Regions from separate parts of the Homo sapiens genome. Here region 2 is linked to region 1. Evidence: fine-mapped expression QTL. A gene starts in region 1. The other region holds a variant in brackets. All regions are shown on one strand. Distances are from middle to middle. Region 1 holds the start of THAP7-AS1 (THAP7 antisense RNA 1). Region 2 overlaps YPEL1 (yippee like 1).

Region 1 (2,904 bases):
GCCGCTTCCAGAGTAAGGCGCTGCCCACCTGGTAGCTGTGTTCATTCTGGATGTAGGCTCCGGCGGGTGGGGGCAGGCGCAGCATATACGCTGAGGGGGAGACTGGCCGTGGTTCGAGAGGGGAGGGCTGCCGCTCTGGTGAAGGCTGGGCGCTGCAGCCTGCTTCATCTGCCTGGGCACCCAAGGGGCCCAGTAGGTCTGAAAAGGGGCTGCTAAGGCCAGGCTCCAGCCTCCCAGCTGGGGAGGCCGGCAAAGTGGCAGGTGCTGAGGCCTCTTCCACAGGAAAGCAGGTGACATCAGCAGGTGGAGGTGGAGAAAATGGAGTTGTGGGCCCTCGGCCCTCGGAGCAGCTGGTAAGGGGGAAGAGAGAGACTGATGGGCTAGGCTGAGGGCTTGCCAGACCCCCCTCCACCAGCCCACCTGATCCACCCTTAACACCCAAACCCGATCCACAGGTTCTGTGTAGCAAGAACCCTGTCCAGCGAGACTGCTGGCAGACACCCCTAGGGCCCAGTCCCTCAGCCTAGGGGTGGGAGTGGGGCATCCCCCACCCATATCACATACCGCTTCCTGCATCGTCTGAGCCGGCTGACTTCAGCGGGGCCAGGTGGGTAACTGTGTCCTTTGGTCTTGGTTGTCCGGCGCAACTTGGAGAAAGACTCAAATATGGTGGGGACTGCCCCCTCCTTTAGCCTGTGATATCCACTGCGGGGAAAAGCAACCCAGATGAGCTGGAGAGCAAGTGCTGCCTCCCCAGGCCAATCTGCCCCCAGCAGCAGCGCCGTGGGATGCTGGAAGGCATCGTGCAAACAATACGTCTGGGGAACGCCAAGTTACAGCTACACCAATCGCTTCCCCGCAGGACTCCTCACAGTCCAGGTGTGTGGAAAGCCTGCATAAGCCGAGCTGGGCTGACCAGCCAGAAAGAATTCTTTGATTTGTGGACTTGCTGGCAAGACTGGGGCTCTGAAAGATACTCTCTGGAAAGGCTCCTGTTTTCCCCTTGTGTCACAGGCACAGTGATCCTGGGGGTGGGTTTCACTGTGCAGAGCTGGGAACAGGAAACAGCCCCCTTGGACGCAGGCTGCTCAAGGGACTTCCATGACCTGCAGCTGTCCCAGTCCGCCGGGAGCCCCACATCCTACCCCAGCGTCGGCCGGCAGGGAGGCCCACCTGATTCCCACCAGCTCAAAGCAGTCCTCCTCAAAGTGTTTGGAGCAGAAGTAGATGTACTCGGATGCCGGGTCCCACAGGCCCTGGCCGCTGGGGTCCAGCCGCTGGCAGTTGGCCAGCCACAAGCCTCGCCTCGGGTTGTCCTTCTTGGGAAGTCTGTGGAGCCACAAACCCGTGAGCACCAGGCTGTCCACAGCCCTGGGCTCATGCTGCCCAAGCACCCCAGAGGGGAAACGCAGACCCAACACGCGCCGCCACGAGACCTCCCTGCGACCCCGCCGGGTAAGCACCACCGCCCGGGCACAGACGAGGCAACGGAGGCCTCGAGAAGAAAAGCAGTTTCCTCAGCGTCATCTGGCAGGTAACAGAGTGGGGCGGGTCCAAGCCGGCTAGACTTCCCGTCCTCCCCTTCCCGACTGCATTCAGTCCCGCCGGGACCGTTCCGCTTCACCTCCCACCCACAGGTTCAAGCCTCCTCAGTATCTGAGAAAGGCGCGAAGCCTCTACGCAGTTGCGACCCGAGGCGAGCAACAACTAGCGCATGCGCACGTGAGCCCGCGGCGCACGCGCGCTGACCTGTGGAAGGAGATGCCGCGGTTGCGCGTCTCGCGCGTGTCCCGTGTGCAGCAGCCGGCGGCGGAGCAGTGACGCGGCATCTGGGAAAGAGGCGGGAGTTAAGTCGCAAGCGGCTCTCCGGGCATCCGGAGGAGCCTCGCGCCTCCAGCCGCCGCTCCTCCCCAAGGGGCTCTGGCCTGTCGGGTCCCCCCCGGCCCGTTGTCGCCCCAACCCCGTCCCAGCCGATTCTCTTGACTTCTGTCAGCGGCACTCACGCTCTGGCCATTGCTGCGCCGCCGAAGTCTCGCGAGGGGTAGCGCGCGCCGGAAGTTGGTACCATAGAGACTGGAGAGCCGGAGGTGCCCCCGCCACCGGGGCGGGGCGGGGCGAGGTCCTAGCTAGCTGGGTTAGTAAGCGGCGCGAGCGTGCGAGTTTCTGACGCGCCCGCGTCGTCCCAGCTCCCTGGACTACCAGTATTGTCGCCCACGTGGGCTTCTCTTTCGTCCGCTCAGGCCTCACTTTTCTCCGTAAACACCCCGGCACGATGGAGCGGCCCCAGCGTTCGGGAGCGGCCCGGGAGCGGAAAGCGGCAGTGTCCTGGGAGCCTCGAAAGCCGCAGGGGCGGCAGCTCGCCTCGGAATGACCTCTGACGGAAGAAATAAAACGGGGCCTGGGACGCTTGCACGAAAGAACCCGACAAAAACCAGAGCCCGCACTCACTCTCGTACTGGGGAGGTGGACTTCAGGGAGGGTTATCTGGAGGAGGAATCTCTCAAAGTACAACACAGGAGAAAGACAGTATCGCAATACAGAAATTTTATTTTTTATTTTATTATTATTTTCCTGAGACCGGAGTCTCGCTCTGTCGCCCAGGCTGGAGTGCAGTGGCGCGATCTCGGCTCACTGCAAACTCCGCCTCCCGGGTTCACGCCATTCGGCTGCCTCACCCTCCACAGTAGCTGGGACTACAAGCGCCCGCCACCACGCCCGGCTAATTTGCAATACGGAAATTTTAATAGGTAATTAGCTCTCCTAGCGTTATGGTGGGGAATACAGAGGGATGGTTGCCTGCCGCACCCTCCCCTCACTATTCTTCGCCTTCTTCAGCCTCAGCTTCCACGGAATCCATGCCCACATCTTCATAATCCTCCAGAGCTGCCAGATCCTCGCGGGCCT
Region 2 (2,904 bases), 720 kb after region 1:
CACCACACCCAGCTAATTTTGTATTTTTAGTAAAGACGGGGTTTCTCCATGTTGGTCAGGCTGGTCTCAAACTCCCAACCTGAGTTGATCCACCTGCCTTGGCCTCCCAAAGTGCTGGGATTACAGGCGTGAGCCACTGCGCCTGGCCCTACACCTGACTAATTTTTGTATTTTTAGTAGAGATGGGGTTTCACCATGTTGTCCAGGCTGGTCTCAAATTCCTGGCCTCAAGTGATCTGCCTGCCCCGGCTTCCCAGAGTGCTGGGATTACAGGAGTGAGCCACCGCGCCCAGACTAAAAGTTACATTTTTAAAAAAGAGGTGACTTAAGATTTCATAGAAACCAACTTTTTGTAAAACTATGATAAGCCAAATACTTGGACCAGCCCTCCCACTGAGAAGTACCAAAAATGCTGACAAAATAAAAGGATGTTTTCTTAAAGGCATCCAGGGGCTGACAAGACAGTGAGGAGCCGCCAGGCACCATCTGGGGAAACCAGAAACCAGAGAGGCGAGCCAAGCCGCTCTTGCCCTGAAAACATCTGCCCCCATCCAGCCACCCCGGGCTTCCGATGAGAACTCTAAGGCTGGTCCCCACCCCACAGAGCAGTGATCATAGGACAGCCCTCACAGGACTTATGGCCCAAATTCACACCAGTGAGAAGATTCCAAAAGCTCACAGTTGATGGATTTAGTTTAAATTGGCTTTAGGCTGACAGCGCCCTGAGGTACCTGGCAGAAGGAAGCGTAAACCTAGTTTGGAGGAAGCATCTTTATCCTAGATCTGAAAAATTCCCACAAAGTCATTTTTCCAGGACAATGAGTAATGCAGTCAAAAGTAACCACACATTCACAGAAACAATGCCCCATGAGCAAGGACAGAAAAGGCCAGCAGCAGGACCAGATCCAGAGACTCAACATCTCAAAGACCTGAGGCAGACCATGAGGCTCCTCCACTTACCTGTACTCACGGAGGGAACCGATGAGCTTGAGAGTATATGTAACCAACAGCAAACGAGAAAAAAAATGACCTTGCAGAAAAACAGGTGTAGACATTCTAGAAATAAACAGCATTCAGCCCAATGGGTTTAACAGGAATAGGAGAATAAAAAGAGAATACCTACACTGAAGATACGTCAGAATAAATTATGCTGAATAAAGAAGAGCGAGAGGCCGGGCGCGCTGGCTCACGCCTGTAATCCCAGCACTTTGGGAGGCCGGGGCTGGGGGGGCGGGGGGCGGATCACAAGGTCAGGAG[T/A]TCGAGACCAGCCTGGCCAACACGGTGAAACCCCGTCTCTACTAAAAATACAAAAATTAGCCGGGCGTGGTGGTGTCTGCCTGTAGTCTCAGCTACTCAGGAGGCTGAGGCAGGAGAGTTGCTTGAACCCGGGAGGCGGAGGTTGCAGTGAGCTGAGATTGCGCCACTGCACTCCAGCCTTGGGTAACAGAGCAATAGTCCGTCTCAAAAAAAAAAAAAAAACAAAAAAACAGTGAGGAAGGTGGAAATATGAGTCTTAAACTAAGAGATGTGAAGCAGGGAGAGATGACATTTATTTGGATTTCAGAAGGTTGAGGCAAGAAGAAAATGGGGTAGAGGCGCTTTGTGAATAATTGATGATTGTGGATTCTCCAGAATTAAGGAAAAGCTACTAATCCACAGACTTAAAAAGCCCAACAGTCCTAAAGCAGGATAAATAAAAATAAAGCCACAGCTAGACAAATAATGAAACTGCAAAACACCAAAGATAAAGGGGAAAAAAGTCTTAAAAGTGTCCAGAGGAAGGAAAAATGACCTGTTCAACAGAACAAGCTCCCAGGTAAAACAAGAGCCCAAAAGGCAGCAGAGAAAGGGACAATTATGATTCTGAAAGATAATAACTGATATCTCAGATTTTACATTCAGTGAAAATATCTTTCAAGAAGTGGGGCAAAGGCTGGACATAGTGGCTCACACTTGTCATCCCAGCACTTTGGGAGGCCAAGGCAGGAGGATTGCTTGAGCCCAGGAGTTTGAGACCAGCCTGTGCAACAGTGAGACCCTGTCTCTACGCAAAAAAAGTGTTTTTCAATTAGCCAAGTGTGGCGTCACGTGTCTGTGGTCCCAGCTACTAGGGAGGCTGAAGTGGGAGGATTGCTTGAGCCCAAGGGGTCGAGGCTGCAATGAGCAGAGATTGTGCCACTGGACTTAGCCTAGGTAATGAGTGAGACTCTGTCTCAAAAAAAAAAAAAAACAAAAACAAAACAACAACAACAACAACAAAGAGTCTGAGTCTGGGTGCAGTGGCTCATGCCTGTAATCCCAGCACTTTGGGAGGCCAAGGCGGGTGGATCATGAGGTCAGGAGATGGAGACCATCCTGGCTAACACAATGAAACCCCATCTCTACTAAAAATACAAAAAAAATTAGTGGGGCGTGGTGGTGGGCACCTGTAGTCCCAGCTACTTGGGAGGCTGAGGCAGGAGAATGGCGTGAACTCAGGAGGTGGAGCTTGCAGTGAGCTGAGATCGCACCACTGCACTCCAGCCTGGGCAACAGAGCGAGGCTCCATCAAAAAAAAATAATAATATAAATAAATAAATAAAAGAAAAAAGACTGGCATAAGATACAAAAACAGGTCAATGTGACATGAAAGAGAGCCCGGAAACAGACCACAGGTGGATACAGACAGCACAGAGGAGCTCTGCAGCGCCTGGAGAACAGTTCCCAGGGGAATACTGCTGGACCAAGCACATCTGCAGGAGAAGAGAAACCAAGCTGAATCCGATTTCATTAACAAAATCAACAGTTCATCACATTTATCAACAGAGATGACTTCATCTAGCAGGAATTTTGTGGAGGAAATTTCTGTACAAAGGTATACACGTGTAAATACACACACACACACACACACACCATCTTCTAAAT

The links. PIP is the estimated chance that this variant, and not a neighbour inherited with it, causes the effect.
Region 2: its variant is the best candidate, but not a certain one, in a credible set for the expression of THAP7-AS1 in spinal cord (GTEx, PIP 0.79).

The regions. Positions count from the first base shown.
Region 1 is chr22:21,000,083-21,002,986 of GRCh38, forward strand. THAP7-AS1 (THAP7 antisense RNA 1) reads left to right here and starts at 1,840. Exons shown (of 2, transcript NR_027051.1): 1 at 1,840-2,747. It overlaps THAP7 (THAP domain containing 7), which reads right to left and starts at 2,036. Exons shown (of 4, transcript NM_030573.3): 1 at 1,750-2,036; 2 at 1,174-1,329; 3 at 565-705; 4 at 1-350. The coding sequence starts at 1,829. RefSeq lists an enhancer at 890-1,099 and silencers at 1,700-1,869, 1,890-1,999, 2,641-2,904.
Region 2 is chr22:21,715,914-21,718,817 of GRCh38, forward strand. All of the region lies in intron 1 of YPEL1 (yippee like 1), which reads right to left. Among named protein-coding and RNA genes, the nearest start is that of YPEL1, 18 kb to the right of the region's middle. The variant T/A (reference allele first, on the strand shown) is at 1,258.